Linked DNA regions of Homo sapiens: regions 2 and 3 are each linked to region 1. Evidence: fine-mapped expression QTL. A gene starts in region 1. Each other region holds a variant in brackets. All regions are shown on one strand. Distances are between the middles of the regions.

Region 1 (7,585 bases):
GCGCTGGCTTCTGAGCTGGGTTCTGGGTTCCAGCTCCACCCCTGCTGTGTGGTCTCAGCCACCACAACGCCCTCTCTGAGCCATGTCTCCCGCCAGCAGTGGTGTCTCCTGCTGGGCAGAGATGCTGGGGGCTGGGATGGTCTGCTCCTGGCTGCATGCAGACAAGGGGCAGGAGGGATGGCGGCCCGGGGCTGCACGCGAGAACGCGCCTGGAGGAGAAGGGAGTCTCGAAGAAGGGGGTCTCATCCACACCCAGAAGACGGTGTTGGGGGAAGGAAGTGGAGGAAGGGGACCCCCTGGTTGGAACATATGTTGCCCTGGGGTGGCCTGTGTCTGCGCTTGTGTGTCTTGGGTGCCTGGCGTGTCTGCGTGTGGGCTGTCTCTCCATGAGTACGTGCACGTGTCTGCGGTATTTGGCACACGTGTGTGGCGTGTGCTCGTGCGTGCCTGCATGTGCTGAGTGTGGTGGAGGAGAAAGTCCCCCTAATCAGTCCCCAGGTCTCTGAGGCTGTAACAAGGTCAGCGAGGAACTGAGACTGGCCAGGTGTGTTGTCTCAGCCAACAGCCGGCGTGGCCGCCTCTGGGCATGGTTGATTTCTCAAATAAGATCAGCATCAGATCCTGCAGGAAGACAATCTGATCCAGACAGGTTGCAGATGTTCTAAGATAAAATAACCTTTCTTTAGGAGGAAAGAAAAGAAGAGGGTAGGTTTGCAACCAGATTAAAAAAAGCAGCACCCATCCGGACACGTGGAGAGCTGTTTCCTGTTAAACAATCCTGTTAGTAACCCCCACCCTCTGCAATTTCTTGTTTTGAGGCAACTTCTGGGACAATCTCTCCACATGAAGGGCAGGTTCGAGGACCCTGCATTCAGGGGTGGGGACCGAGCCCCGGACCGGTCCACTGGAGCACACCAGCTGTGTGCTCAGGACGGCCAGGGAGGAGGCCATGGACTCTGGACCTGGCTCAGGGACAAAGGGCTGTCAGAGTGTGGGGGAGAGCACTGGCTCCAGGGGATGTGCCTCAAGGCAGTAGCAGTGGGCCTGGGGTCTGCCGGGAACCTCTGGAGGCCCTGGACAGGTTTCCCTGCTCCCGGTTGGCCTCGTGGCCAGTGTTACTGAAATGGGAGATGGGGACTCTGTGACTGATGGAGATGACACCCTCGAGGCAGATCCAGGACCAGAGAGCAGCCACCAGAGCTGCGTTTCATTCGCTGATCCGCACTTCATTCATCCGCCTGGAGTTTGTTGTCTTAGACTCTGTGTTGGGACCTGTACTGGTGTTAACTCAGGCCTCGGTGGACTCCTGGTCCAGGGTGGATGAGGTCATGGGCAGCACAGCCCTGGACAGTGGAACTGATGTTGTGGACGTGTGGGCCGGGAGCCCAGGGAGGGATGTTGGGTGGCGGTTCAGACTGGGCTGGGCTTTGCAGGGTAGGTAGGGGTCGGGTGGTGGGAGAGGCTGAGGCAGAGGCACTTGGGCCTGAAAAGTATCTGAGTCCTGGATGCCAGGAAGCCACACAGGGCACTTGGGCACAGATATGTCATTGCTGCTCCTAAAATTGATCATGTGTAAGCCTCTGGATAGCCGTGGGGGTCGGCACTAATCAGAGGGTCTCATAGGTAACCCAGTGATGAGGGGATCCAGGCTAACCATTGAATGCAATATTGTCAATAAGAAAGAAAAAAGCAGGTTACAGAACAGAAACCATCTGCACCAACACCTATGGTGCTCCAACCGTGCCAGGCAGGGTCCCGGGCCTGGGCCGCGTGATGAGCCTGGCGTGGGGTCCCGGGCCTGGCCCGCGTGATGAGCCTGGCGTGCAGATACTGAAGAGTCCTCTCAAGTGTGGGAAGGGCTCTGAGAGTTAGGCACCTTTTTTTTTTTTTTGACAATTAAAAGAAATTTGCACATAAAAAAAAAAACCTGGAGGGTTAGATGTGGGGAGGTGATGGGCTGCTTTGGGGTCTGGAAATTTGTTTTTACTCCCTATCTGCATTGTCTAATATTTCAACAAGGAACACGGTTATTATTCCTGCGTGTATGTGTGTGGATCTCATTTCCTGTGTCTGGCCCTGCAGGGAAAGCTGGGAGGGGGAGCCTTGGAAAGATGGCTCCACATGGCCTGCGGGGTCCTTCCATTGTACCTGGGCCTACTGCGGGCTGATCCCTGAGCAGGGGCAGGCAGCGTCCAGACACCAGTGCCACAGGGGAATCGGCTTTTCCTTCTGTGGTTTCTCTCCATTAGAGCAGGCTGCAGTCAGGGCTGTCAGTCAGGAGACAGCAAGCCGGCCGAGGGCTGTGGCTGGAGATCCCAAATCGCCCTGGGCTTCAGAGACTCAAATTCCCAAACTCTGTGATCTTTCTTGGCTCCCTGCGTCCTTTGCTTGGAAGCCATCTGTTATTTTGCCAGGGTGCCGCTATGTGACAGCCAAGGGCTGAACTGGGGTGTTCCAGGTTTAAGCCGGGTACCCCTCAGACAGCCTGGTGGACCTCAGGCCTCACGCCACACTGCAGACGAGCAAACCTCAGGGCGGTGGTGAGGAGCTTTCGGGTGAGGTCAAGGCAGGAAGCGGAGCTTGGTCTGGGGAAAACTGTCCCAGGGCTGCTGGAACCGAGCGGGAGGCACGGCCTGCAGGAGCTGCCTGGGCGCCCGCACCCTTTGCCTGAATTTCGCATCCTTTTCCCATGGAAGTGGTTGGGGACCGAGGATGTGGCCTCCCGGCAGCCTGGAAGGCTGGGCTGAGGAGGACACAGGGCCGGGAAGGCCCAGACTGGTCCCTAGAGAGCGGGACTGGCCTCTGCCCACTGCGGGCTTCAGGGAGGAGGCGCAGAGGCCGGGGAGACAGCAGATGGGGCCCTGCAGGCCTCGCTGCGCCCTGACCTGTTCCTCGCCTCTTTAGCCAACCTCCCGGGAAGGCAGGAGCCGGTCTCCATGGCCTCTCCCGGCCCTGCCAGCCCCGTGGGGCCTCCCCGCCCTGCAGCCGCGCCCGGCGCCATCCCGCCGTCCGACCGCGAGGGGACGCCGCTGGCCGCGTTCCTCCTCCCAGGCCGAGGCTGCCTGTGCTGCCTCCCGCCGGCGGGGCCCTGAGCCTCCTCGCCCTGTCGGCGGCGGTCCCCTCTGACCGCAGGGTCTTCTTCTAGAGTCCTGATCGCCGAGGCTGAGCGGAGGCGCCCGGTCTTCCCGCCTCTTCAGTCTTAATGTCTCCCTCACCCTCGCCCCCCACCCCCGTGGCTTTTGGCGAGGTCCGTGCCCTATTTTTAGGCAGAAATCGGCAAAAAGAGTGGACTGCGAGGTGGTTTCTGTCCCCGCCGACGCCTCCTCTTCCGCTGCTCCCTCCCCCGGGACCGGTGATGGGGAAGGTGGGGGAGTGAGTTCAGGGCGGAGCGGGCCCACCCCCCACGGAACCCAGGCCTGCCCCGCCCCGCCCCGGCCTCGGGGGACTGGTGTGGACCGTGCCCCGCGGACCCCTCGGAATCAGACCGCGATTCAGCCCTCGGCCCCCCGGGACGGTCCTTCCAGCCCCAGACGAGCGCGGCGCCTGCACACAACAGGCGCCCACTAAATGCTTGTTGATGGAGGTGGCGAGTACCCGAAACCAGCGGAGCCTGGAAATGGGATCCTAGAGATCCGGGAAGGGCGCGGGGATCTGGTGCCAAGCTGGGGTCCCCCTTTTGCCTCCCCTAGTGTCTGCCTGGGTCCGAACCCGGGCTCAGGCCCCGCGCAGCTCGGAGCCTCCAGCCCGGAGCCGGTCCCTGGGCCGGGGATGCGCACAGCCGGGGAGGGCGCGCCCGACCTGACCCCAAAGCTATCAGTTGGGGGGGGGGTCCCCGGGGAATTAGAAGCTGTCTCCTCCCGGGCATCTCCGAGGGGCACCCCTGCCTCTGCCCCCTGCCCTCATTTCCCGCCGCGCCCCTCCCCGGCCCCGCCCCCCGGCCGCGCCCCACCCCCTGCAGTCCCCGCGCGGCGGCCGCCCGAGCCACGTGCGCCCGCGCCCGGCAGGCGTTCAGGGAAGCGCGGCCACGCCTGGGCCGGCCACCATTTCCCGGGCGCCGCGGCGGCGCCGACTCGCGGGCAGCGGCCCCTCAGTGCGCCCAGCCGGGCCCCCGAACGCCGGGAGCATGAGCGCGGGCTCGGAGCGCGGGGCGGCGGCAACCCCCGGGGGTTTGCCCGCGCCCTGCGCCTCGAAGGTGGAGCTGCGGCTCAGCTGCCGGCACCTGCTGGACCGCGACCCGCTCACCAAGTCCGACCCCAGCGTGGCGTTGCTGCAGCAGGCGCAGGGCCAGTGGGTGCAGGTAGGGCCGGGGCGTGGGAGGCCGAGAGGCCACCGGGCCGGGGCTGGCGCCGAGCTGGGGATGCGGAGACCAGAGCGGGCGCGCTGAGGCCAGTGGGGCGCAAGGCGGGGCCCCCCGGAGCTGGGGCTCAGCTCGGGGTCAGGGTTGGGGGTTACCAGGTCTGGGGGTGGGGTGTCCAGAGCTGTGGGGAGAGGCTGGGCTGGAGGAGGTGGCGGCGAGCGGGGTTCGGAGGAGAGAGGGGGGTGCCCCGCAGTGAGGGGTGCGGCCCAGGGTTCGGGGAGGGGGCCCCGGGCCAGAGTGAAGCGCCCAGGCATGAGGCGCGGGCAGGGGGCTCGACCAAGAGGCGCAAGGAGATTGAGGGGTGAGGGGCGCCGGCCGACGGGGGGCGGGAGGCTGGGCGGGAGCAGGCCGGCGAGGGAGCGCGCGCTGGGGTGCGGACCTCCAGGCGTCCGGGGCTCCCGCTCCAACGTGGGTCTCAAGCGAACCCGCTGTGATCGCGGTTGGGGTCCGAAGGGGCACGGGGCCGGCGCCAGACGGGCGCTTCCTCGGTCACCATCTCGCGTGAAACGCGTGGCTTCACCTCGAAAGGGCGAGAAACGCATGGCGCGAAGCCGCAGCGGGCGGAGGAGCCGGAACTCGAACCCCAGTCCGCGCGGGGCGCCAGCGCTTTTCCCCGGCGCAGGGGTCTCTCCAGGCTCCAGCGCGGGCCCGGGCGGCTGCTCGGGCGGTGGAAGGGACGCGGTCACCCGGTGGCGTCTCCGGTCATCCACCTTGAGGGTGAAGGGCCTGCCCCGCCCTCACCGCCTGTCCCCAGGGTTCCGGCTGCCCCCGGAGGCCCCGTGCCCGCCCCTCACAGCCTGAGCCCACCCTTCACATCCCGAGCCCACCATCCCCACGGAGGCCTCGTGCCCGCACCCTCAGAGCGTGAGCTGTACGGGTGGCCCATGTTTGCCCTTGGTTTGAGGTGCAGGATTTTTCAGGATTCTGAAATGAGTAGCCTACTGGCCCAGCTGGGTCTTGTCCTTACGGGGCAGTTGGACCAGGGAACTGCATGGGATGGGAGAGGCTGGTGAGCCCATGGTACCCCAGCCAGGAGGGAGGGCCCCCCTGTACCCTACGCCCCCTCCCCACTCAGCTGGTGCTGGGGAGCGGCCTGCACTTTAGGGCTGCCCAGCCCAGGGTGTGAATCTGATCTCGCCCCCGACTCAGCGTGTCATTCTCGTCCTCTGTGAGCCTCACTTTCCCCATCTGTGATCTGAGGGTGGAGCAGACAGTGGTGGCCAGGGGTGACCCCCAGGGTGGCCCTCGGGATTGTGGTCCCATGGACAGAGAGCAGGCAGGAGGTCTTCCCAGGGTATGAGTCCTCCTGAGGTACCTGGGCGTGGGTGAGCGGCAGAGGGGAGATGGAGGTCTGGAGCCCGGGGTGGAAGCCTCTGGAGTGGGGTCGGCTCACAGGTGCACTTGCAGGTGGGCAGAACCGAGGTGGTCCGGAGCAGCCTGCATCCCGTGTTCTCCAAGGTCTTCACGGTGGACTACTACTTCGAGGAGGTGCAGAGGCTGCGCTTTGAGGTGTACGACACGCATGGGCCCAGCGGCTTCAGCTGTCAGGAGGACGATTTCCTGGGGGGCATGGAGTGCACCCTGGGGCAGGTGGGTGCCCCGTCCCCTCGGAGGGAGGAGGACGGTTGGCGTGGGGGCCACAGCCGATTCAAGGCTGATGTACCAGCACCGCAGGGACCCTGCTGGGGTGGCCAACCTGGCTCTGCCCCCTCCTCAGCTCCTCCTGAACAGTCATTATTAGATTAAAATATACATGTAATTTTGAACTGGGTAATACATTCGTATGTTTTAAAGCCTGAAGGTATAAAAGGCTGTGGAGCGCCTCCATCCTGCCCCATCCAGCTGCTGCCAGGTCCCTGGACATTGTCCAGAGAGAGATTTTCACAGGAGCAAACCAGCCTATCACTTTTCCTCTTTTTTCTTTTTTTTCTTTTTCTTTTTTTTTTTTTTTGAGATGTAGTCTCGCTCTGTCACCCAGGCTGGAGTGCAGTGGCGTGATCTCGGCTCACTGCAACCTCCACCTCCTGGGTTCAAGCGATTCTCCTGCCTCAGCCTCCTGAGTAGCTGGGATTACAGGCACCCGCCACCACGCCCGGCTAATTTTTGTATTTTCAGTAGAGACGGGGTTTCACCATGTTGGTCAGGCTGCTCTTGAAATCCTGACCTCGTGATCCGCCTGCCTTGTCCTCCCAAAGTGCTGGGATTACAGGCGTGAGCCACGGTGCCCAGCCCACTTTTCCTCTTTTTTCAAAAATACACAAATTACGTTCCCTGTTCTGCATCCTGCGTTTTCACTTCCACGACGTGCAGCAGCCCCTCCATATCAGCACCTAAAAGTCTCCTGGTGGCCGGCCGTGGTGGCTCACACCTGTGATCCCAGCACTGTGGGAGGCCGAGGCGGGCAGATCACTTGAGGTCAGGAGTTCGAGACCAGCCTGGCCAACATGCTGAAACCTCATCTCTACAAAAAGTACAATAATTAGCCGGGCATGGTGGCATGTGCCTGTAATCCCAGCTACTCTGGAGGCTGAGGCAGGAGAATCGGTTGAACCCGGGAGGCAGAGGTTGCAGTGAGTGGAGATCTCACCACTGCACTCCAGCCTGAGTGACAGATTGAGACTCTGTCTCAAAAAAAAAAAAAAAAAAAGAAGCCTCCTTGTGAGCAGCAGGTCCTACGGTGGCCACTGCTTCCTTGGTGATGCTCTCTGGGTTACGGCCTCCACAGCCAGCCCAAAAGTGGCTTCTGCAAGTCGTGATGAGAGTGTCTGTTGATGTGCTGGGCCCTGCTGGACACTGCGCTAAGCACTTCCTGTGCTGCACGGAATCCTCACACCTTGCCAGGACGGGTCCTTCTTTTTTATTGAGGTAAAATTTACAGGCCGGGCACGGTGGCTCACGCCTGTAATCGCAGCACTTTGGAAGTCCGAGGTGGGGGGATCACGAGGTCAGGAGTTCGAGACCAGCCTGGCCAACATGATGAAACCCCATCTCTACTAAAAATAGAAAAGAAATTAGCCAGGCGTGGTGGTGCGTGCCTGTAGTCCCAGCTACTGGGGAGGCTGAGGCAGGAGAATCACTTGAACCTGGGAGGCAGAGGTTTCAGCGAGCCGAGATCGCGCCACTGCACACCAGCCCAGGTGACAGTGAGTCTTTGTCTCAAAAAAAAAAAAAAATTTTACGATAAAATGCATCAATCTTAAGGGTTGAGAATGACAAGTTTAGGTGACT
Region 2 (7,585 bases), 460 kb before region 1:
TCCTTGCGTAGCCCAAAGTCACAGAGAATAGTTTCAGCTCTTACGTTTGGGACCATGATCCATTTTGAGTTAATGTTTGTACATAGTGCGAGATACGGACCACAGTTCTTTTTTAGTGTGTGAATGTCTAACTTTTTAGCACTGTTCGTTGAAAAGACTCCCTTCTCCATCGAACAGCCCTTTGGATCTTTGTTGAAAGTCCGTCGACTCCTGAGGGGTCGGCTCCTGGGCTCTGCTCTGTCCCATTGCTTTCCGTGTGCCCTTTGGCTCATTCCATGCCTGCTTGGTTCCTGGGACTCTAGGGTAAGCGTGGACATGGGGGTTCAGGCCCAGGCAGGGACCAGCTGGTGCCAGGCAGCGATACGGTGCTGGGGCCTGCAAGGTGAGTGTGAGGGCTGGCTGGCTGCTGGGCTGGGAGGAGGAGAGACTGTAGGCTCACGCCCCTTTGCTGGGCCTGGGGAGCCATGGGGGCTGTTAAGTGTATTCTGAGTGTAAAGTCTCGGTTTGGCTGGGGCATCCTGAGCAGAATGACAGGGCCATGGCAGCGAGATCCTCAGCTGCCGTGCAGAGCTGCCAGTGGGGTGGCCGCACAGAGTGCAGTGCCTGCTGCAACAGTGCCCAGGGCAGTGGGCGGGTGGGGGCATGTTGTGAAAAGAAGTCAGTGTGAGTGATGAGAAATACATCCTAGTCTCAGACCCCAGGAAACCGCCGTCAGTGCTGGTGGCCCCTGCCCTGGGCCGGCTCCCGCGTTAGTCTCAGACCCCAGGAAACCTCCACCTCCGTCAGTGCTAGCGGCCCCTGCTCTGGGCTGACTCGCGCATCTCCACGATGGCTGCGGCACCAGCTGTTTCTTCGGTGGCTAAAGCTCTCTGGTGGAAATAAGATGGGGACCTTGAAATCAAATGTGACTGGTCTGTTGAGTCTCTGTCCTTATCGTTGTCCTTCTTAGTAGGATGTGCTGGTTTTGTCCAGTGCCACCGGCCACAGTCACCACGTAATATGGACGGAATGAGCAAAGCCCGGCTCGCTGAGGCTGCAGGCTGCAGGCAAGTGAGGACTGAAAGGGTAACGGGCTCTGGGCTTTGTCCTCTCTTTGTTCCGGACATGTGAGCAGGACAAGTTCTGTGTATTCAGAATCTGTCTGCACAGTTTGTAGTTCATGATGACTGTTCATCCACAGCATTGCTTTGTGGGCGTCCTCTCTTTTGATCTTCTCGAAACAGCCCCTGCGATGGGGTCATATTTTGCACTCACATACAAGAACCCATGAGCCTGCCCACGGTCACGCGGCTGGTGAGTGATGCACTTCCCAGGAGCACGGTGACCTCTTCAATGGCCCTCACTAGAGAAGATGGACAGTGCCCCCCTAGCCTTTTTTACTGGAACAGATACAAGGCTGAGAAGCTGAAATCAGGAGCAGCCCAGGGACCACTGTCTACACCGAGGGAGTCATGAGCAGCCCAGGGACCACTGTCTACACCCAGGGAGTCAGGAGCAGCCCGGGGACTGCTGTCTACACCGAGGATGTCAGGAGCAGCCCAGGGACCACTGTCTACACTGAGAGCGTCAGGAGCAGCCCAGGGACCGCCGTCCACACCAAGAGCGCCAAGGAGCAGCCCAGGGACCGCCGTCCACACCGAGGGCGCCAAGGAGCAGATAGTAGCCCAGAGACCCAGGGGAGGCTCAGCTTCCCCACGCTGGAATCAGAACTCCTAGGCGAACAGGAAGGAGCCCCAGACAGATGGCACAGGGAGAGGAGTCCCCGGCTGAGGAGGGGGATCCAGAGACCCTGAAGCTTCAGGGTTATTGGGCAAGAAACCTGAGTGCACCAATCCCCGAGTCTTCAGCTACCGACGGCAGGTTCCCTCGGGTGCCGGGGATGCTCCCTCTTCTCTAAGGCAGAGCCCACAGTAGGTTCCCTCAGGCGCCAAGGACATTCCCTCTTCTCTAAGGCAGAGCCCACAGCAGGTTCCCTCAGGCGCCAGGGACGTTCCCTCTTCTCTAAGGCAGAGCCCACGGCAGGTTCCCTCGGGCGCCGGGGACGCTCTCTCTTCTCTAAGGCAGAGCCCACGGCAGATTCCCTCGGGCGCCGGGGACGCTCTCTCTTCTCTAAGGCAGAGCCTGACGGCAGGTTCCCTCGGGCGCCAGGGATGTTCCCTCTTCTCTAAGGCAGAGCATACGGCAGTTTCCCTGGGGCGCCGGGGACGCTCCCTCTTCTCTAAGGCAGAATCAAATATCTGTGATTTTATCCTTGCCTTTAAATCACCAGCAGTGTGAGTTCTTTGGTTTGGAAAAAAGTAAGTAAAGTCACCTCAGCATTAAATCCAATATGCCCCACAAAAACTCCAAAATGCAGCCTCCTGAGCCATGTTTCTAGAGGGCACGGTGGAGGAGAGCTTTCCTCACTCTCAGGCTCTAACCCCCACCCTGGTGGCCATGGCCTTGACCCTTGGGTCGGCTCCAGCCACAGGCTCTGAGCTCATGCTTGGCCTCGCTGCTCAGTGCACTGTCCGTGCTCGGAAGAGAGAGAAGCTGGGTGGAGGGTGAGCTCTGTCGTGTGTTATGGTTACAGGCCTGCTCCGTGCGGTTCCTGTGGAGGGAGATGAATAATTCATGGCCGACCACTGCTGGGCCTCGTCACACTCTAATTGGAGGTTGAGCTCAGAGGTGCTCACGGCTCCTGGGCCACTCTGTGGCATTGACAGGGAGCTCCAGGGCCTCATTGGCGGTTTCCGTTCCCTGGGTCCCAGTCCCCAGTCAGAGTTATCAGGGAGGGGCTGGCTGACAGCGATTTTAGAGGTGGGCTGTGGCAGGAAGGCAGTGCCCCCCACCTGCCTGCAGCTGCGCTCCCATCTACATTGGCCTTTGCGGGGCCAGCCTCTGTCCACTCTCTTGAGCTCTCATGTCCACACTGTCACATGCCCGGGGCACAGCGAGCGGCACCTGGAGTGTGGGGACCCCTCCCTCGAGCTCTCACGGGTGGCACCTGGAGTGTGGGGGCCCCTGCCTCAAGCTTTCATGGGTGGCACCTGGAGTGTGGGGGCCCCTCCCTGAAGCTCTCACGGGCGGCACCTGGAGTGTGGGGGCCACTCCTTGAGCTCTCATGGACAATACCACTGCTTGGCTGCTGCAGAATCCAGACACCATCCCAGAGCCTCTTCAGCCTCTGCAGATGGTGTGGGACGGCCACACGGCCTCCCCACCTGCGGCCCCCGCCCCTACCCCAGCCGTGCCGTGTCCTTGCGCTGCGTCCCCGCCCCAGTAGAGGCATCACCAGGAAGAGGCGAAAGGCCGCCTGTGATGGTCCTCTTCTTATGAAACGCCCAGAACAGAAAAACCACGGACGCGGACAGCAGACCTGGTGCCAGGTCTGGGGAGGGAGGGTGTGGCGGTCGTGGGCTGTGCGGGAGTTCTGACTAGGGGAAGTGGGGGGCTGTGCAATGTGTGTGCGGAACACCGCCGTGCCGCGCACTGAAATGGGAAGTCATGTGTTATGCGGGTTTCACCCCCATTTAAAAATCTTCAGAAGCAAAACATAAAGGAGGAGAAAGGATGGAAGAAAGGGGGCTGAAGCTGGCCCCGCCACACCCCCCATAGTGGTGACACGGGTTTCTGACCAGAGTGGAGGTTCGGGGCGTCTGCATACCTGGA[A/G]CCACAGAGAACTCCCGAGGTGACACTCCGCACACCACACTAGCCCGGCTTCGCCTGCAGGACCCCAGGTGTGGACAGGCCCAGCAGGATCAGCAAGACCGAGCCGGGCACCGACAGCCCCTCACCAAGCGTCTGGAGGCCGGGACGCCCCATGGATTGCAGAGTTCACTGCACTGACCCTCGATGCTGACCCTTGAAGTGCCGGAAATCTCAGCGTGGACTCAGACATGATAAGCGTTCAGGCACTCCCCTGACGCAGGCCAGGGCAAAGGCCTCACGCCCCGGGATAGACAGGAAGTCCCACGTCTGCTCTGCCCCTAGGTCATGCCCGTGCTGACGCCACATCGCCAGGGCCGCACTCCATGAGCAGCCTCTGCCGTCCCACCAGCAACCTAAACCACAGGCAGAGCGAGGCTGCGGCAGCCCTGCGTGTGCCGGCGGGACACGTCTCGCCACCTGGGCTCTGCCCCCACCCCGGCCAGTGTAAGATATGATTTTAGCCACGTTGAGACTGTGCAGGTGGGATGGATACACTGAGCAAATCATGGGTGTCTAATAAATGAGCCAGTACAAAGTGTGGTCCACCTGCCATGCAGAGTTCAGGACAGCCCCTCCTGGGGACATAGGGCAGATCCTGCCTTAGCCCGTCGTGTGCCGGGCACACACAGGTCCCCTCATCGTGGACAGCCCCGGGGCCATCAGGGCAAGGCGCCAGCCCTCCCTGGCCAGCAAGTGTGTAAAAGTGGGAATGACACCAGAATCTGTGGGCAGCTGTGAGGCTTTGGGAAGTAACTGGGAAAGTGATGTATGAGGGGCCCAGGGCAGGCCAGGCCCAGCGTGCCACGTGAGTGCCTGCTGTGCCACATGGCCATCACTGTGGCATCGGCTGGGCCTGAGCACACCGTGCTTGCCAGCCACGTATCGTGTGGCTTTTCACCTGCTGGTGCCTACACCATCTTCTCTCTGGGTCACAGGGCACGTCGCTCCCTCCACACAGACTCCCGCACGTGGCACACGGGAGCTCAGCGGGATCCGAGCTCAGTGTGTGCTTCTCTCCTCCAGGTTCCTCTCACTCCAGCCTCCCCTTCAGTGTTTCTCCTCTCCTGTAGGTTCCGTGGGGACCCCACTGCCTGGAGTACAGGTGCGCATTGTCTCAGAAAACCCACAGAGGGAAGCCTGCTCCTACACCATCCACGCAGAGGGAGACGAGAGGGGGACCAAGGTAAGCCACTCTGCTCTTGGCAGGTGGGCGGCCGTGTGTCCAGTCTAGGCCCCCCAGGGTGGTTACACTGGTGCATCTTTCCCCTGGAGGCAGACTCCCCTCCACGCAGGGGACCAGCCCCCTGGACACTGCAGGTGCTGGCTGGTGTTGCAAGGGCACTGGCTGGTGTTCTGGGCCCTGCCTGCTGCGTGTCCGTCTGTGCGTTCACAGAGCAGTGGGCAGAGGGAGCCCAGGGCGGAACGCCAAAGGGACTCACACCCGGGCACACAGCTCCTCCCAGGGGCCCTGTCCACGGGGACAGGCTGACGTGGGCCATGATGGCCTTGGCTAAGCGGAAGAGATAAAGAGCAGAGGCCGTTGTTGTTGATGGGAATCTGGTTAGAAATATGAACTGGCCTGACCCTGGCACCCGTCCTGAGGGGACGCTGACCACAGGCCCCCATAGTAGGTGTGGGGAGATTCACGGGGCCCTGCACGCGGAGGTGGGTGCCTGTGCAGTGCTCTGTGGCTGCCTCCTTGTCTTGTGCGTTATTCTAAAGCTGACAAGGGTGAACAAGAACAAAGGACATTGTCTCATTTCTGTGAGGATTTTAACATGAGAGTCTGCTCATCACACGTGAACTCATCACAGAGAAAGGTTTAGGGATTATGGGGAAATGGAATCTTGATTTAAAAGGAAATTATTTTCTCTGAAGCCAGTATCCACACCTGATACCACACATGATTGACTGTGTTGCCCTGAGGTTTTCAAAGATCGAGGGATCCTGAGTCTCATCTCTGTGCATTTCCTTCTCTGTGACACCATCTTGGCCCTCACGGGCACAACTGAGCTCCCTGTGCAGAGGCTGAGGGGCCGTGGGCCTTGCTCTCGTGAGTGAACAGCCACACGCCCTCCTTGTACCTTGGTTTCCACACATGACCACGTGAGGGTTGGAGCGATGGTCGTGGTTGGACGTTTTAGCTCCAGCAACCAAGTAGGATGTGGGTGGCTTTCAGTGTCATTAAATGACACTGAAAGGTGCAGTGGCCGCACCTTGTGTGGAGGGCCACACGGCGTGTCCCGCCTGGCCTGGGCCCCCCGCAGTGGGCTGTTATCCCCCGTGGCCCTGAAGTGGGTATTCTGTTTCCCCGTGGAAACCTCTCACCTGGGGCCACCTGCAGTGGCCGCACCTTGTGTGGAGGGCCGCACAGTGTGTCCCGCCTGGCCTGGGCCACCCGCAGTGGGCTGTTATCCCCCGTGGCCCTGAAGTGGGTATTCTGTTTCCCCATGGAAACCTCTCACCTGGGGCCACCTGCAGTGGCCGCACCTTGTGTGGAGGGCCGCACAGTGTGTCCCGCCTGGCCTGGGCCCCCCGCAGTGGGCTGTTATCCCTGTGGCCCCCACAGAGCCATGGGGCAACTTGCTGAAACCCACCTGGGTGGCTGCCCCTTGCTATACCCACCTCCCCTGCCCTCTGTAGGGCCCCAGCCCATGCTGTTGTCCTGACATGCCTCTCCTGGGATTCCTGCCTCTGCCCTGCTGGTACTAGGCTGCTGGCCACACCCCACATCTCAGGTTCCTGAATACACCGGCCCTTCCTGGCTCTCAAGTCTGTGCCCTGCAGTGCCCCTGCCCCCAACTCGAGGACCTCCCAGCTCAGCCAGTTCCAACCCTGTCTGCAGGGACGGGGCTCAGCCTGTGCCTGGGTTGGGGACACCATCTAGTCAGAAATGTCCCCAGCAGAGAGCAGAACGTGAGTGGCGTGTGGAGGAGTGAGACGCCCCGTGGCTGTGCAGCCCTCTCCAGGTGTCAGTCAGCTGACACTCCTGCCTCTGAGCACCTGCTCTGCCGGAAATGGCAGAAATGTTGCCAGAGAAAGGGGCGGAGCGGGGGTGGGGAGCATTTCTGTCTTAAATTAAAACAAAACTTAACTGCTTCACACCTGCATTGGCTGCCGCGCCACCTGATTGCTCCTGCCTGAGTTTCTTTAATTATTTGTGTCTGCTGGTTTCTTCCCTGAAGCAGTCTTGAAATAGAAGCAGCAGCCTCAGCTACCTGGGCACCCTGACAGTCAGAGACACCGCACAGGGGCCTCTGCGACAGGCATGCAGGCAGACCCTGCAAGGTGAAGCCGCACAGATGCTCTGGGGCTGCTTAAATCTCAGCGTACGGGGGGTTTGCATCTGCTGACAGCAGGCCCGGGAACATTTCCAGTTCAGCCAAGGAGTCGGTGCAGCAGGTGGAGTACAGCTGCCCTGCGGGGCCTGGCTCCACCAGGGGCCAAGACCCTTCGTGGGGAGGAGCACAGCCTGAGGGCCTCAGGGTTTGTGCCCTCCGACACCTGAGATTCAGGGCTCCCAGAGGGGTGGGTGGGCGCCCCAGGACAACCAGGTGATGATGGGCGCTGTGAACTCTGAAAAGCCCCAGCATCAGAGACCTGCTGCTCTCTCATGTGAAGGGACTCCCCACCCCACGCTCACACTCGCAGACGCACTTGGTACTTTCATCTGAGTCTCACGCAGTAGCCCTTCTCTCCACAGCATCCCAGAACCCGAGGGTGCCCCTCACTACCACGGTCCCGGATCCACGTGGCTCAAGTGAGGCTGTGGCCGACAGCTGGGCTGTCCGATCCACTCTTGTCTGTGCCGAGGCGTGGGTCCCGGCCAGCGTCCCTCCCCAGAAGGTCTCCCTCAGGACTAGTCATGAGAATGGCCATCCCTAGGCCTGTGGAG
Region 3 (6,907 bases), 27 kb after region 1:
GTGCGTGTCAGGGCCCTGTGCTGATCGGGGGTCTCGGGCTGGACAGAGGGTGTCAGGGCCCTGTGCAGGTGTGGGGGGGTCTCAGGCTGGACAGAGGGTGAGTATCAGGGCCCTGTGCTGATCGGGGGTCTCGGGGGCTGGGCAGAGGTTGCGTGTCAGGGCCCTGTGCAGGTCAGGGGGTCTCGGGCTGGACAGAGAGTGAGTATCCGGGCCCTGTGCTGATTGGGGGTCTCAGGGGCTGGGCAGAGGGTGAGTATCGGGGCTGGGGCCCTGAGCGGGTCGGGGGTCTCAGGGGCTGGGACAGAGGGTGAGTGTTGGTGCCCTGTGCCACCTGCCTGTGGTTTTTGGGCCAGAAAGTGTCAGACGGTTTCTGGGCTGACTCAAAGTCGAGAGGTGTTGGTCCATTGAGATCTTAGCAGGAAGCAGGTGTGCCGAGGAGTCTACCTCAGAACAGGGTTGGGGCGGCCACAGTGGGGCGCCAGGGAGCTGACCTCAGACAGACAGGGATGGGCAGGTCACTCGGTGAGCTGGCGCCCTGGAGGGAGTGTGTCCCTTCCCAGAACTGCTGCCTTACAGGGATGTGGCCACTCCCAGACCCCTATGGAGCAAGCAGGGAGTGGCTGTGAGCACCCCAGCCCCCTCCTCCCACCCTCTCTTCTCCTGCCGTCCTCCCATGGCAGAAGGCAGCAGCCCTGGGGTCAGGCCAGTGGGCAGGCTGGGCCACCCTGGTCTCTGTGCTGCTGGGTGTCTGGGGTGTGTTTGAGACCATCGAGGGACAGCAGGGACAGGATGGCGTCTGCCAGCTCAGCTCTGAGAATGTGACTTTCGCCAGCAATTCCCAGCCTGAGAAAGCAGCCCAACGTTGCTCAGAGACGCACGCAATAATAATTTGACTTCTCCCCCTAACCCCGTGGGTCACTGGGATGAACACAGGATCCAGGCCTGGCCAGGCAGGGGCTGCTGCCTCCTGGCCACAGTGCTTGCTCCAGGGATGGACGTGCCCCAAGCTGGCCCGTGAGACTCAGTTCTGGGACCCCTTGTTTCTTCCTGGCTTGAGGAGCTGTGGACAGTGACCACTTAGCGGGGTCACATGGGCAGGGCCTGCCTGGGAAGGACACTACCCAGAGAGCTGGTGGCAGGTGCATGCTCAGGCCTGCTCCTGTCAGGCCTGCTCCTGAGCCGATACTTCCCATTGAGGAGCCATGAGCTCCCTTTCTGATTAGCTCAGGTGGGACTGGGTTTCTGTCATTTGCCACCCAAGGATCCTGCCCCAAAAGGATGACAGATGCTCCTTTTTCACAGACAAGAAAATCAGGGTTCAGCACAGTGAGGTGCCCTGCCCAAGGTCACACAGCCAGTCAGAAGCAGAGGTGCTAGCTTTGTGTAGCTGGTGTGCACACACACACAGAGCAACATGTATACACCTGTGCACACACACGCGCACCCACACATCCATGCACACACATGCACCCACACGCACCCACACATCCACGCACGCACACGTGCACCCACGCATCCATGCACAGACATGTGCATACATGCCTAACACATCCACACGGACACGTGCTTAGCCGGGACCTGCAGGCTCCAGGCTGAGTCCTAGGAATTGAGATGCTAGTTCTGCAGTTCCTGTAGGTCCACCTGTCAGGCATCTTCCTCCCCGGGGTGTGACATCCGGCTCTGAAACCCAGAGGGGCCCCTAGGGCAGGGCAGTCAGGGGTCCTGCCGGCCGGTGTGGAGACCCCCAGGTGAGACCAATGGGTTCCCTGAGTCTTCAGCCCCTCCTGACCTCGAATTAGAGCCTGACCCTTGCTGAGAATAGCCTGGGTATGACCTGCCTGGATGTGGACTTATTTCCCAAATAAGAAGCAGAAAGTGTGTAGCTGCCAGGACCCCACAGCAAGGGCCACCATGGGACCCAGTCCAGGGACTGCCTGCAGCAGGCGGAGGAGCTCCTCCTCGGGGGTGGATTTGAGATTTGGAAACAGCCTCAGTCAAGCTGGACACCAGCTCCCGCTGTGTGACCCTGGACAAGCCATCACAGTCTCAGTGAGTCAGAGCCTTGTTCCTTGCCTGTCACGCGGATATAGCAGCTTTGAAACATGGCTCTAGACTCCTCAGCCCCTTCCATTGGAAGTTGGTTTATGTTCCTTCTTCTTGAACCTAGGAAGACTTCGGTCCAATGTGGCTTATTTTTGTTTGTTTTTGAGATGGAGTCTCGCTCTGTCACCCGGGCTGGAGTGCAGCGGTGGGATCTCAGCTCACTGCAACCTCCGCCTCCCGGGTTCAAGTGATTCTCCTGCCTCAGCCTCCCAAGTAGCTGGGATTACAGGCGCGTGCCACCACACCTGGCTAATTTTTGTATTTTTTTTTTTTTTTTTGAGACGGAGTCTGGCTCTGTCGACCAGGCTGGAGTGCAGTGGTGCGATCTTGGCTCACTGCAAGCTCCGCCTCCCAGGTTCATGCCATTCTCCTGCCTCAGCCTCCCGAGTAGCTGGGACTACAGGCGCCCGCCACTATGCCCGGCTAATTTTTTGTATTTTTAGTAGAAACAGGGTTTCACCGTGTTAGCCAGGATGGTCTCGATCTCCTGACCTCGTGATCCACCCGCCTCAGCCTCCCAAAATGCTGGGATTACAGGCGTGAGCCACCGCACCCGGCCAATTTTTGTATTTTTATTTGTATTTTTAGTAGAGACAGGGTTTCACCATGTTGGCCAGGCTGGTCCTGACCTCAAGTGATCCACCCACCTCGGCCTCCCAAAGTGCTGGGATTACAGGCGTGAGCCACTGTGCCTGGCCCCCACGTGGATTCTGACACCCCACGGTAAGAATGCTGGGCGCTGCTCCCGTGCTCAGGAGATGTGGCTCCCGGGAAACTGACGATGCTGCGAGGAAGCTCAAGCGCCCGCACCCCAGCTGAGCTCCCGGCTGGCAGCCAGTGCCAGGGGCCACCATGCGAGTGCACCACCTCCAGCAGCTCCTGTAGCCCCGGGCAGGATGCCCTGCCTGCATCCTCACGAGAGGCCTGAGCCAAAGCCACACGGCAAATCCTCGTGTGGATTCCTGACCCAGGTCGTGGCCCGGGTTAATCCACGGTTGCTGTTCGAAGCCACTCGGTTTGGGCGTGATGAGTCGTAGGGCAGGAGGTAACAGACACATCCTCTTTCCCAGGGATCTTGTGAGGAATGAACGAGGGATGCAGGAGCCCCTGCTGGATAAATAGGTGTCAGTTTCACAAGGGGAGCCGGCTTCTCCTTATTCTCAGGAACCACCAATCACAGCTGCTGAGCATCCCCCACCCTGTCTTGCTGGCCACCGGCTGCCTGGGCCTCACAGGCTGAGGACGCGGGGTCAACCCCTGCCCACCCATGCGCGGAGTCGGATGAGGGCTCTGACTCGGTGGGTGGGGGGGGCAGCTGGAGGGAGTGGGAAGAGCAGCAGCTCAGCGTCCAGGCTGTTCTTTCTCCTGCTGCCGAGGCGAGTACAGGCAGGAAGTTGTGACTAAGTGCTTGTAATTGGTGCGGGGGCTGTGGCAGGGCTGTCAGACAGGAGTACCGCCGGCCCCTGGCACAGCAGGGCCGTGGGCGAAAGCTGTCTTCCTTGCCACCTCACGCCTCACCTGTCCCTGCACTGGGGCCCCACCCCCATCAGAGCCCACCCAGGACCCCTGTCCAGCTGGTGCCTCCCTCCCCTCACCCCATCAAGACCCACCACAGCCCAGGAGTACTGAGTATTCCAGTACTCACTGAGCTAAGTTCCCACAACAACCCCGCCTGGCTGACTGTTGTGAGTGCATCTCACTGACGGGACGGCCGACCTCAGAAAAACCCTAGGTGCACTGCTGGGGAGGCAGGGCAGGGTGGCGAGCTGGGTCTGGCCCCTGGGTTCCCAGCACTCAGCCTGGAGCCCCTAGGTCCTGGCTGAG[C/A]ACATGTGTGTCTGTTAGGCATGTGTGCGTGCATGTGTGCATAGGCATGTGTGGGTGCATGGATGCACGGGTGCATATGTGTGCATGGGTGTATCTGTGTTGCTCTGTGTGTGCATAGGCATGTATGCATGTGTGCATGTGTGTGCATGCATGTGTGTGCATGGATGTATGGGTGCATACGTGTGCACAGGTGTAGATGTGTTGCCCTGTGCATGTGGAAGAGGCTGGAGTGGGGGTGTTGGTCCTCACTGCTTTACTGAAACATCTTTAGGAGCCCCAGTTGCACTGGGACTTGGCCACACTGCCAGCCCTCCCCATCCCAGGCAGTCAGCATCCAGACCCCAGGTGGAGCAAGTGACGTGCAAGGTCTTGGTGCCCCATTACTCCACCAGGACAGTACATTATCATCCCACTGTGCAGAGAAGCACTGGGGGCTGGAGGGAGGCACTGGGGGCTGGAGGGGGGCACTGGGGGCTGGAGGGGAGCCCTGGGGGCTGGAGGGAAAGCCCTGGGGGCTGGAGGGGAGCACTGGGGGCTGGAGGGGAAGCCCTGGGGGCTGGAGGGGAGCCCTGGAGGCTGGAGAGGAAGCCCTGGGGGCTGGAGGGGAGCCCTGGGGGCTGGAGGGAAAGCCCTGGGGGCTGGAGGGGAGCACTGGGGGCTGGAGGGGAAGCCCTGGGGGCTGGAGGGGACCCTGGGGCTGGAGGGGAAGCCCTGGGGGCTGGAGGGGAGCCCTGGAGGCTGGAGGGGAGCACTGGGGGCTGGAGGAAGCACTGGGGGCTGGAGGGGAGCACTGGAGGCTGGAGGGGAAGCCCTGGGCTGCAGAGGAGCATTGGGGGCTGGAGGGAAGCAGTGGGGGTTGGAGGGGAGCACTGAGGGTTGGAGGGGAGCACTGGGGGCTGGCAGGAAGCACTGGGGGCTGGAGGGGAGCACTGGGGGCTGGAGGGGAGCACTGGGGGTTGGAGGGGAGCATTGGGGGCTGGAGGGGAGCACTGGGGGTTGGAGGGGAGCACTGGAGGGGCTGGAGGGAAGCACTGGGGGCTGGAGGGGAGCACTGGAGGCTGGAGGGGAAGCCCTGGGGGCTGGAGGGGAGCCCTGGGGGCTGGAGGGAAGCACTGGGGGCTGGAGGGGAGCACTGGAGGGGCTGGAGGGAAGCACTGGGGGCTGGAGGGGGAGCCCTGGGGGCTGGAGGGGAGCACTGGGGGTGGGAGGGGAAGCCCTGGGGGCTGGAGGGGGTCACTGGGGGCTGGAGGGGAGCACTGGGGGCTGGAGGGGAGCACTGGGAGTTGGAGGGGAGCACTGGGAGTTGGAGGGGAGCACTGGGCGCTGGAGGGGAGCACTGGGGGTTGGAGGGGAGCACTGAGGCCTGGAGGGGGAGCATTGGGGGTTGGAGGGGAGCACTAGGGGCTGGAGGGGGAGCATTGAGAGCTGGAGGGGAGCACTGAGGGCTGGAGGCGAAGCACTGGGGACTGGAGGGGAGCACTGGGGGCTGGAGGGAAGCACTGGGGTTTGGAGGGGAGCACTGAGGGCTGGAGGGGAGCACTGGGGGCTGCAGGGGAGCAGTGGGGGCTGGAGGGGAGCACTGGGGGCTGGAGGGGAGCATTGAGGGCTGGAGGCCAGGGCTGGAAGGGACTGTTCTCCTCATCCCGTGGGTGAAAGCCAGGGCCTCAGGTTGGGCACACAGGGCCTTCCTCAGGCAGCCACAGCTGAAAAAGTTTCCATTTCACAGCCATAGGTGGAACCCCACGTCCCCACCGGGACCCCCCATTCTGTGCACATACACCCTACATGATCCCCACACCCAGTTAACGTCCTTCCTGCAGACACACAGCTACACATCGGTGTCCACACAAAAGTCCAGACAGACTTGTGGGCCAACAGACACACAAGAGCGGGTGGGGTGGGGAGCAGCGGCTGCGGGTGGCCCTGGGTGAGGACGTTGCGGCTGGGGAGTCGGGCCTAGGCGGCCAGGTTGGTGGGATGCATTGCCAAGGAGACCATGAAGGCTCTGCGGAGGCCCCAGGTGTTGACTGGTGCCTGAAATTGACCACGGCAGACGTACTCCCTTGTCTGGAAGGCCGTTCTGTTACAAGGCCGGAGAGGCAGCCCTTGGGCTCCCATGGGCTGCACAGGTGCCTGCAAGGGGGTTCGGGTGGTGGGGTTCAGTCCCCAGTGTCTGGGGGGACTGAGGCCTGCTGGGGCAGTGTGGATGGTGTAGTGTGAGCCATCCTGCCCAGACCTCGCCCCAGCCACCGCACCTTACCTGACTTGGGCAATGTCACCAGGTGGACGTCGGTGTCCTGGGACTGGAAGTTACGTGCGTCCTGCCAGGGCTCCTGGGCGCGCATGTTCCCTGGCAAGCAGGTGCAGGTGATGGCCTGGACCACGTCCCTGTCTACTGCGTCCTCTGCTGTGGGTCAGTGCCTGCCGGGTGGCGCAGGCAGGGAGTGCAGCCGGAGGGCTCCGTGGGGGGGTCTGTTATCCACACGTGCCCTACCAGAGGCCCAGGCAGGTTCTAGCAGGTGGACACCAGCTCCGCCATCCCCACCGTTAAATACTAGCAGAGGCCCACATTCAGGTGCCCTCCCAGGACCAGCCTCAGCCCTCGTCAGCCTTGCCTGCCGCCTTGGCCAGGGAAGGCCTTTCCTCAGCAGGAGAGAGACGGTGCTCTGGGCAAGTACCCGCTGGCCCCGGGGCTGTGGGATTCCGCTGCCAGCACCACCCACGGTCCCTGTAGTCTGCTCTTCAGTGGCAAACGGGCGTGGCTGGGATGCGTGGGCCTCCGGTGGGAAGGGCCCTTGGGGAGTACCTGTCTCCCTCCCAGAAGCCTCAGAGCCACGGTGGGGCGGCCGTGGTAGATTCTGCCACAGTCCTCACCTCCCAGGCAAAAACCTCCATTCAATCTTCACGTAGCAGCTGCCCGGCCTGGGCTGGTGTGAGGGGGGGCTCCCGCAGGCAGGGGTGGGTCTGGATTCCCAGGCAG

What was found. PIP is the estimated chance that this variant, and not a neighbour inherited with it, causes the effect.
Region 2: its variant is the best candidate, but not a certain one, in a credible set for the expression of CPNE7 in visceral fat (GTEx, PIP 0.65).
Region 3: its variant is the best candidate, but not a certain one, in a credible set for the expression of CPNE7 in whole blood (TOPMed, PIP 0.57).

The regions. Positions count from the first base shown.
Region 1 is chr16:89,571,775-89,579,359 of GRCh38, forward strand. It overlaps CPNE7 (copine 7), which reads left to right and starts at 3,984. Exons shown (of 15, transcript NM_153636.3): 1 at 3,984-4,297; 2 at 5,765-5,947. The coding sequence starts at 4,124. RefSeq lists silencers at 2,190-2,447, 2,908-3,137, 3,378-3,447.
Region 2 is chr16:89,116,041-89,123,625 of GRCh38, forward strand. ACSF3 (acyl-CoA synthetase family member 3) reads left to right here. Exons shown (of 11, transcript NM_001243279.3): 7 at 4,761-4,873. Among named protein-coding and RNA genes, the nearest start is that of ACSF3, 26 kb to the left of the region's middle. RefSeq lists a silencer at 2,481-2,775 and an enhancer at 2,481-2,775. The variant A/G (reference allele first, on the strand shown) is at 3,652.
Region 3 is chr16:89,599,116-89,606,022 of GRCh38, forward strand. No RefSeq gene overlaps it. Among named protein-coding and RNA genes, the nearest start is that of DPEP1, 11 kb to the right of the region's middle. RefSeq lists an enhancer at 419-1,332. The variant C/A (reference allele first, on the strand shown) is at 3,928.